Linked DNA regions of Homo sapiens. The protein of the gene in region 2 purifies or fractionates together with the protein of the main gene of each other region. This does not show direct contact. Each region holds a gene or a part of one and is shown on either strand. Other genes may lie near its edges.

Region 1 (3,659 bases), on a different chromosome or scaffold from region 2:
AGCACTTTCCAAACTTTGCTTACTCTAATATAAAGAGAAGGGGAAGAATTTGCATGTTTTGAAACATTTATTGTTTATCAGATTGAGCTTACATCATTTCTAGGTATCTCCCAGTAGTGGACAAATTTTGGCTGAAAGTACTCAGCTCTTAGAAAAATTGTAAGCTGTTCAGACCAATGAAAAATGCTGAATGGTTAGTCTAAAACGGAGATTACTGTTTAACCAGTTCGGTAAATTCTGACTTTTGCAGATGTTGCATCCCATGAAATTAGCAAACAAGAGGTACCCAATGGCAGAGAAAATGTTAGATTAAAAATGAATCAAAATAGGGAGGGTTCAGGGAAGATGCTTCTCTCTGAGCTTGAGGAGGTTCTGTGTGTCAATGAGTACCCGAATCAGACTCCACAAATATGACAGTTTCTGATATGGTTTCTTAACATATATAAAATAAGATGAGTATTGGTGAAGTTCTAAAAATTCGCTTTCAGTTGCCACCTGAGTACTGTCTGATCAAATAGGAACCGAAAGATTAGACTAATTGTTCTTCAATCTACTTGACTTATGACTTAAAACATTAACAACCCATTGAATAAAATGGAGTAAGGCAATCTGGACAGAGCAAATAATTGTGGAATTTTAAAATGTTGATCTGGGAGAAGCCATAATGAGAACTCAATACCAATCTCTCATGTGACAGAGAATAGTAGAAATCTGGTTTTGGAATTTGCTTCTTACTTTTGAATACTTACATTTGAATATGAGGGTATCTGATCTGGGACTTCACAATCATTAACCATTATTCTATTGTGTTTATTTCAAGAAATAAACATAAAAGCTAAATATTTAATGTGGCTTATAAAACTGTGAGTCTGGCTCCTACCAACTTCCCTGCCACTGAGTGGTCCTGCTCTCCCTCCTCACCATAGGAGCCTTCTTCCCCCAGGGTTCATCATGCCCACCTTCTTGCAGTCACCTACAGACTCCCAGGTCAACCCTTAAAATCCTTTGAGAGAGCCCTGGCTTGCTGTCCCTGTCCCCAGAACTACTCTTCACATAATTCTTAGAGATTTAAATTTTTATTCACAGTTCTAATTACCTGCACCTCCTGTCTTCTAGGGGTCTTGTCCGCTTGACCTTTGTTACCTGTTCCTTTGCATTATCAATATACAAGGTCATATTGGTAATGCAAAGTCGAACTTCTTACTCAACACTTCCACTTGGATGCATAGCATCTTAGACCTGTACGTCCACAACTGAAGCCCTGAGTTTTAAATTTTTGCTGTAGACTAGCTCCACCCACGGTCTTCTCCATCTCAGTTAATGGCAGCTTTATCCTTTAGGTGGTTGTCAGGCCAAAAACCTTGGTGTCCTTAACTTCCCTTTCTTTTATAAACATACTTTAGACTTTGCATTACCAATAACTGAACCCCTTCCACGGCTCCAGTTTGAAGGATTCTGCCATCTACCTACCACTTCTTATATTTTGGCTCACTCTGCATGGCACTTCGGCTTCCAAAGGGATCTATAATCCAGTGATCATACTATCTTTTAATCCTATCATCTTTTCTCTGTCTTTTTCCTTATCCGGGACAGATTCTGTGGCCCATCACTGTAACTAATCTATTGCATACACCCAACTCCTGAACCCTTGCTCCCTCTGCCATACTCACTTGACGGAACATCAACTTTAAATACAGATCTACTTATTCCATGCCTGCTTCTGGACAGCTAACTGTTAACTATGGAAACACACACACACACACACGCACCCAGACACATACAATGTAAAATTATCTCACTTTTGGCTTTAAGGTCAACCCTTGTGTCCTGATCCCATTGCAAATCATCCACCCAAGGATTGTTATAGCAATTCTCCCCTTTAACTCAATTTCACTTGCATTTCTAGTGATCTTCCCATTTCTCTCCTTTCCTTTGTAGTAAAACGTCTTGAAAGGATTGTTTTCACTTGCTATCTCTAATTCCTTGCTACAGTTTTTCTCTTGAACCCCCTCTGGTCGAGCTTCCACCCCCACACTCCAGAATTGCTCTTCTCAAGGCCCACAATAACATCTGCCTTGCCAGTTCCAGTGATGAGTCCCCAGTGCTCATTTTCTTAACTTACTGGCAGTGTCTGCCTCAGTTTATCACTGTCTCTCCTGGTGTTTGTCGTACCTTTTGGCTCTTCCTTCTTAGTTAGTTCCTTTGCTGATTTCATCTCATTTTTCCAACCTCTAAATCTTGAAGTGCCCTGAGGTTTAGTCTTTGGACTTCCATTCTTCTCTATCTTTTTTTGAGTGCACTGGTGCGATCTTGGCTCACGGCAACCTCCACCTCCCAGGTTCAAGTGATTCTCCTGCCTCAGCCTCCTGAGTAGCTGGGATTACAGGTGTCCGCCACCAAGCCTGGCTAATTTTTTTGTATTTTTAGTAGAGATGGGGTTTCACCATGTTTGGCCAGGCTGGTCTCGAACTCCTGACCTCAGGTGACCCGCTTGCCTTGGCCTCCCAAAGTGCTGGGATTACAGGCGTGAGCCACTGCGTTTATCTTAATGTCCCAGGTGATCTTATCCATTTTCATGGCTTTAAATGCCATATTGATGATCTCCACATTTCTATTTCCAGTGCAGACCTCTTTCCGAACTCCAGCCTCAATAACTTCCTACTCAGCATTTCCACTTAGATGCATAGCATCTTAGACCTGTACATCCAAAACTGAAATCCTGAGTTTTAAAATTTTGCTATCAACTAGCTCCACCCATGGTCTTTCCCATCTCAGTTAACGGCAGCTTCATCCTTTAGGTGGTTGTCAAGCCCAAAACCTTGAAGCCCTTAGTTTCCCCTTCTTTTATAGTCACAGCCAACCCATTAGCAGATATCATCCTCTGCATCTTTGAAATATATTCAGAATCTGTCCACTTCTTATCCTCTCTGTGGCAACCCTCATCCTTTTAGTTTCCATTGTCTCGCCCCTGCCTGGATTATTTCAGTAGCTTCTTAATAGGTCTCTATTTCTACCCTTTAACCTATTCACCACAAAGCAATCAGAGTATACTTTTAAATAATAATGCCACTCCCATGGTCACATTTCTCCAATGGCTTCCAGTCTCAGAGAGAAGGCCAGGTCCCATAGATGCTTACAAGGGCCTATAAAATCTGGCTCCTATCGCCTCTCTGATCTTATCTGCCATCACCCTCCCCCACTTCCTCTCCTTCAGGCACTCTGCCTTGCTAGTGCATCAACAGGCAGAGCACACTCTTGCACTGGGGCTCCTGCACTTGTCATTCTGTCTGGAAGGTTTTCCCCAGACGCTCCCGTGGTGCTCTTATGGCGCTCCCATGGTTCTCTTCCATGCCACCTCTAAGAAGTCTTCCCTGACTATTCTGTTTAAAATAACACTCCCAGGCCCCTCCTTTCCTACCTAGCATGCCCTGTCCTTCTAACCTGGCTTGTTTTCTCCATAGCATTTAATCAACACCTGACATATTTGTTGATTCTAATTTCTTCCACTAGAATGTAAGCCCCATGAGGACAAGGACTTTGTTCAATGTTGTATATAGCTCTAAAACAGTGTCTAGCATTTTAAGATTTCAATAAGTATTTCTTGAGTAATTGAATGAATAAATGAATGAAATCCACTTTTTTTTTTGTCCACAGCATAC
Region 2 (2,803 bases):
TAACATTATTTAGAAGCACCACGGTATGCATGTACTGTTTAGAAACTTACCAACCAGAGGCTATCTGTCATTTCCTTCCTGTAATTGCCCACACCCAACTATTTCTCCATTTCGCCTCATTAAATACAGCCTTCCTCTACTTCTCTCTGGGCAGAGGTTATTTTATTTTTCCCTCACTTTCCTGGATCACATATTCTCTTACTGATAGGCCTCATTAGGGATTTGTCCTTTACAGCTTTATAGTTTAGGTATTTGGGAACTTATTTCCTTTTTGAAAATGCTAACTTGTTGAAAGAAAGAACTGTGGCCATGCCTCATCTGTGCTTGTATGCCCTAAATGCTTAGCATATTTCCTTGTACATAATTTGTAATAAACATTTATCCAGTGAATAACTGGTTTTTTTTTTATTCATGTATTGCAGATAACGAAGGAGGCCCAACTTCATTCAATAAGGAGCCTGACGGATTTATCCCAGACGGTAGAACAAAAGGAAGAATATTGATGGATTTTAAACCAGAGTTTTTAAAGAGCTTGAGAATACGGGGAAATTAATTTGTTCTCCTACACACATAGATAGGGTAAGGTTGTTTCTGATGCAGCTGAGAAAAATGCAGACCGTCAAAAAGGAGCAGGCGTCTCTTGATGCCAGTAGCAATGTGGACAAGATGATGGTCCTTAATTCTGCTTTAACGGAAGTGTCAGAAGACTCCACAACAGGTGAGGAGCTGCTTCTCAGTGAAGGAAGTGTGGGGAAGAACAAATCTTCTGCATGTCGGAGGAAACGGGAATTCATTCCTGATGAAAAGAAAGATGCTATGTATTGGGAAAAAAGGCGGAAAAATAATGAAGCTGCCAAAAGATCTCGTGAGAAGCGTCGACTGAATGACCTGGTTTTAGAGAACAAACTAATTGCACTGGGAGAAGAAAACGCCACTTTAAAAGCTGAGCTGCTTTCACTAAAATTAAAGTTTGGTTTAATTAGCTCCACAGCATATGCTCAAGAGATTCAGAAACTCAGTAATTCTACAGCTGTGTACTTTCAAGATTACCAGACTTCCAAATCCAATGTGAGTTCATTTGTGGACGAGCACGAACCCTCGATGGTGTCAAGTAGTTGTATTTCTGTCATTAAACACTCTCCACAAAGCTCGCTGTCCGATGTTTCAGAAGTGTCCTCAGTAGAACACACGCAGGAGAGCTCTGTGCAGGGAAGCTGCAGAAGTCCTGAAAACAAGTTCCAGATTATCAAGCAAGAGCCGATGGAATTAGAGAGCTACACAAGGGAGCCAAGAGATGACCGAGGCTCTTACACAGCGTCCATCTATCAAAACTATATGGGGAATTCTTTCTCTGGGTACTCACACTCTCCCCCACTACTGCAAGTCAACCGATCCTCCAGCAACTCCCCGAGAACGTCGGAAACTGATGATGGTGTGGTAGGAAAGTCATCTGATGGAGAAGACGAGCAACAGGTCCCCAAGGGCCCCATCCATTCTCCAGTTGAACTCAAGCATGTGCATGCAACTGTGGTTAAAGTTCCAGAAGTGAATTCCTCTGCCTTGCCACACAAGCTCCGGATCAAAGCCAAAGCCATGCAGATCAAAGTAGAAGCCTTTGATAATGAATTTGAGGCCACGCAAAAACTTTCCTCACCTATTGACATGACATCTAAAAGACATTTCGAACTCGAAAAGCATAGTGCCCCAAGTATGGTACATTCTTCTCTTACTCCTTTCTCAGTGCAAGTGACTAACATTCAAGATTGGTCTCTCAAATCGGAGCACTGGCATCAAAAAGAACTGAGTGGCAAAACTCAGAATAGTTTCAAAACTGGAGTTGTTGAAATGAAAGACAGTGGCTACAAAGTTTCTGACCCAGAGAACTTGTATTTGAAGCAGGGGATAGCAAACTTATCTGCAGAGGTTGTCTCACTCAAGAGACTTATAGCCACACAACCAATCTCTGCTTCAGACTCTGGGTAAATTACTACTGAGTAAGAGCTGGGCATTTAGAAAGATGTCATTTGCAATAGAGCAGTCCATTTTGTATTATGCTGAATTTTCACTGGACCTGTGATGTCATTTCACTGTGATGTGCACATGTTGTCTGTTTGGTGTCTTTTTGTGCACAGATTATGATGAAGATTAGATTGTGTTATCACTCTGCCTGTGTATAGTCAGATAGTCCATGCGAAGGCTGTATATATTGAACATTATTTTTGTTGTTCTATTATAAAGTGTGTAAGTTACCAGTTTCAATAAAGGATTGGTGACAAACACAGAACTCCTGCTCCATTGCATTTGATTTGATGGAGAAGAAAAGTCAATTTAAGTTATAAAAATAAATATTAAGATATTTTACATTTTATATGAGAGAGTTTTCTCCCCTGAATAAGAGAAAACTGAAGTGCTAAGTTCAGCAAATAATTTGTTTTTCCAGGCTTCTAAAGAAAGAAAAATAACAGTGAATTTTCTTGCATTTGAGACTAATTCACTAAATTACTTTATATTATATATTTTTCTGTAAGATTATGTTTTCTCTATAATTTTCTTAAGTATAAAAATACAAGTTGTTTGGTAACAGCCTCTTCTTAGTTATCTACCCTTTAAGTATGACACATGGATGTGGATAGTTGAGTCACTGATGCATTTTATTAAAGTCTGTTTTAAAAGAGCAGATAAAGACTGAGGATGAGGCATTTTTATGTTATTATAAGTCTTAACAGTTCTAGAGTATAACAATCTAGGGAACTAAGCTAAACACTGTTTAGTTTCTAAAATTTCAAAGAACACGTCAATTACC
Region 3 (3,659 bases), on a different chromosome or scaffold from region 2:
AAAACTTAATTGTGAAAAATGAAAGGACAACTAACATATTTTAAGTATAAAGAAAAACATGTTACTCTCAGTGAATATATTGTTTGAGAAAGTACCAACCTATCTGAATAGAACTTGGCTCATACACACATAAAGAAAGAGGACAAAGAACAAGTAAGGTGGAGGGCAAAGACAAGTCTGCACAAAAACCTGAATGCTTACAGAATTTTGTCCTACATACAACATCACATATAAAAACAGATCAAGAACTTTAAAAACAATTTAGCAGAGTTTCACTACATTGCCCAGGATGGACTCAAACTCCTGGAGCTGAGACTACAAGCATGCACCATCATGCCCAACTTAAAAAACATTTTATTTGGTATACAGGTTGAATATCCCTAATCTGAAAATCTGAAATCCAAAATCATGCAAAATCAAAAATTTTTTCAGTGCCAACATGACTATCAGAGGAAATGCTCACTGGAGCATTTTGGATTTCAGATTTTTCAGATTAAGGATACTAACCTGGTAAATATAATTTAAATATTCTAAAATTCGAAAACAAAAACCAAAAAAACCCCTAAAATCCAAAACACTTCTGGTCTCAAGCACTTCAGATAGAGGATACTCACCCTGTAATACAAATTTTAACAGGAAAAAGACGATGGGCTAATTCCACCGTCAAAAAAGCCTTTCCTCCCAAGCTGTGGAAGTTTTCTGAGGAAAAGGGTAGCAGGTTAAAATAATTATATAAAATATGAAAAAATCACCATTAAGAAAAAACATACACATACAAGAAGGAAAAGTAAGCAACAAGGTTTAAGGCTACAGTTACTTTAATCAGTAACAGTTCTTAGATGGAACATATCCACCTATGTAATGTTGGCTCATTATCAGAAAAGGTATAAAGATTTGTAAAAGGAAAAGATAACTGCTTATCAACACATTCTTTAGTAATGAACTACTATTGCACAAGTACCTTCTTCTCAATTTATAGACTACAATTCCAAGTTAATAGTCTTCCTATCCTGTTTCATGATCATCTATTTTCTCTACCATTTAATTCACCCATAGAAGTCTCCTGCTACCATTGATGCTGATGCCCCACCATCTGATAGTCCACAGGTCTGACAGTACCAATAGGTCTGATAAAATATGACATCATCTCCTGCAGAGTATGTTTCATCATTGACATCCAAATGGCACATGTATTATAAAGCAAAAGAAGCATCAAGTTTGACTTTTGCAGATTCAAATAAGTTCTTGACAGATATTACTATAATAATATAATAAATGCTGGTTTATTCCAGTAACTGAACATGCTTTTAACAGCTCTTTAAATTATATTTAGTCCTATATTTATAAGCTCACAATGGTCTAAAAAGAAAAGTCACTTAAACTTTCCACTTTCCTATCAGAGGAAATTCAGTCCTATAATTCAGTGACTTTAAAAAAAATTTTACCAGTGTACCCAGTGAGAAATACATTCCACATACATTGCTGCACAAACTGTTACTGTCTTTATTACGACAGATTCTATGATACGTTCTAGTTCACTTTTTTTTTTTTTTTTTTTTTGGAGACAGGGTCTCACTTTGTCGTCCAGGCTGGAGTGCAGTGGTGTGATCATAGCTCCCTGCAGCCTCGACCTCACAGGCTCAAGTGATCCTCCCATCTCAGCTTCTTGAGTAGCTGGGACTACAGGCACAAGCCACCACACAGGCTAATTTTTGTATTTTTTGTAGAGATGGGGTTTCGTCATGTTGCCCAGGATGGTCTCAAACTCCTGGGTTCAAGTAATCCTCCTGCCCTGGCCTACCAAAGGGCTGGGATTACAGGCGTGAACCAAGGTGCCCACCCTCACTTTTTAATAGTCTGAAAAACAGAGCCACGTGTTTTTCAGACTATTAAAAATATCCTGGGATTACAGGTGGTGGCACCCGTCTCTAATCCCCGCTGCTTGAGAGGCTAAGACATGAAGATTGCTTGAGCCCAGGAGTTTGAGACTAGCCTGGGCAACATAGGGAGAGCCCTGTCTCAAAAAAAGGAAAAAAAAAATTGGAAACCAGTTATATTAACAAGAATGGTCAACAGGCTTCATTTTTAGTGCTAAAATGTAATTAATAGGTAATGGCTATATATTGTACTATGCATAGTCCATTAGAGTATTTAACATCTGCCATGGCACTAAGAAAAAGGAATGGTACTAACATCTGTCATGACACTAAGAGAGGCAATGATACCAGGTTATGATATTATAATTACACAGTTAAAAGCCATTCTTCGAATTAAATCATGAGCTCCTTAAGAAGAGAGAATCTTAGTTTAACACAAAATAGGCAGTCACATATTTACTGAATGGTAGATCTATTTAATGTAGATCCTAACTATTTTCTATCAAGCAGATGATTAAAAGTCAACCTTCTCGGCCGGGCGCGGTGGCTCACGCCTGTAATCCCAGCACTTTGGGAGGCAGAGGCGGGCGGATCATGAGGTCAGGAGATCGAGACCATCCTGGCTAACACAGTGAAACCCCGCCTCTACTAAAAATACAAAAAATTAGCCGGGCGGGGTGGCCGGCGCCTGTAGTCCCAGCTACTCGGGAGGCTGAGGCAGGAGAATGGCGTGAACCCGGGAGGCGGAGCTTGCAGTGAGCCGAGATCGCACCACTGCACTCCAGCCTGGGCAGCAGAGCGAGACTCCGTCTCAAAAAAAAAGAAAAAAAGTCAACCTTCTCATAAAGAGCTTACTATCTACATGCAAACGTATACTTCTGCTGCAAGAATGGCTGGGACTTGCAGAGGTAGAAAACTTCATTTGAGATAGCTGGAAAAGCTAATACAAAGGCAGTAGTTATAGAATTGTTTAAAAAAGGAGTCCGTATAAAAAACAGAAGTCATCTTTCAAATACAGACCAGACTCACAGTCTAGTTAAATGAACCGTAAGAAAATTTTGCAAAAAACAAAATAACAAAGACTTCCTCTGAATGTTGAAAATGTATCCAATGTCAAGCTAAATACTACTGTCCTGTATTAGATTCTCCATCAATAAAACACTGTTAAAATTATTCAACTTGATAATACCTTCAATCTTTTGTGTAAAATAAAATATAAAAATGCAACCTAAACCCCTAAAATGTTTATGAATTCTTCAATTAAATATAAACTTACTTTCAAATATAAGTCAGGAGAGGCCAATGTTTATTACTGAAATTAGGTACGTGACTATTTAAATCAACAGTTCTCAAGGAGGGGAGAAGGACAGGTCCCTATCACCAGGGGAGCATATGCAAATTACACCACCCACCCCAGCCTCCAATTCAGGTACGTCTTCTTGGGATGTGGGCAGGTAAGAAAAGGGAGTGGTGAGGGATAAAACATTTATCTCATATGATTATGAAACAGCTGCTTCTCCTCCAATCTGTGCCGTTTAAGAACCACTGGGCTAAATACATGTACTCGAACTTACAGATCTGAAACTCTCTAATTGCACACAAAGAAAACACAAAGTTGAGAACTGGGAAATCTGAGTTCTCATTTTGTCCTTACCTGTCCAACGACAAACAAAATTACTTCTCTGTGCCTCAATGAGAAAATAATTAGTATTGTATTAAAAATAAGTTATATATAACATCACAGAATTGTTCTAAGGATAAAATAAAACGTGAAGCATAAGC

Evidence for each region.
Region 1: the proteins of NFIL3 (region 2) and FUCA2 purify together in Homo sapiens (affinity purification with mass spectrometry; one large-scale study listed by BioGRID and IntAct). This does not show direct contact.
Region 3: the proteins of NFIL3 (region 2) and COP1 purify together in Homo sapiens (affinity purification with mass spectrometry; 3 studies listed by BioGRID and IntAct, with this or other methods). This does not show direct contact.

Annotation. Positions count from the first base shown.
Region 1 is NC_000006.12:143,498,158-143,501,816, reverse strand, and holds part of FUCA2 (plasma alpha-L-fucosidase precursor), read left to right. Parts: intron 1-3,659. UniProt on the Homo sapiens protein: Alpha-L-fucosidase is responsible for hydrolyzing the alpha-1,6-linked fucose joined to the reducing-end N-acetylglucosamine of the carbohydrate moieties of glycoproteins.
Region 2 is NC_000009.12:91,408,526-91,411,328, reverse strand, and holds the end of NFIL3 (nuclear factor interleukin-3-regulated protein), read left to right. Parts: intron 1-148; exon of another isoform or gene 149-326; intron 327-422; 5' UTR 423-594; coding exon 595-1,983; 3' UTR 1,984-2,284; downstream 2,285-2,803.
Region 3 is NC_000001.11:176,200,647-176,204,305, forward strand, and holds part of COP1 (E3 ubiquitin-protein ligase COP1), read right to left. Parts: intron 1-3,659. UniProt on the Homo sapiens protein: E3 ubiquitin-protein ligase that mediates ubiquitination and subsequent proteasomal degradation of target proteins.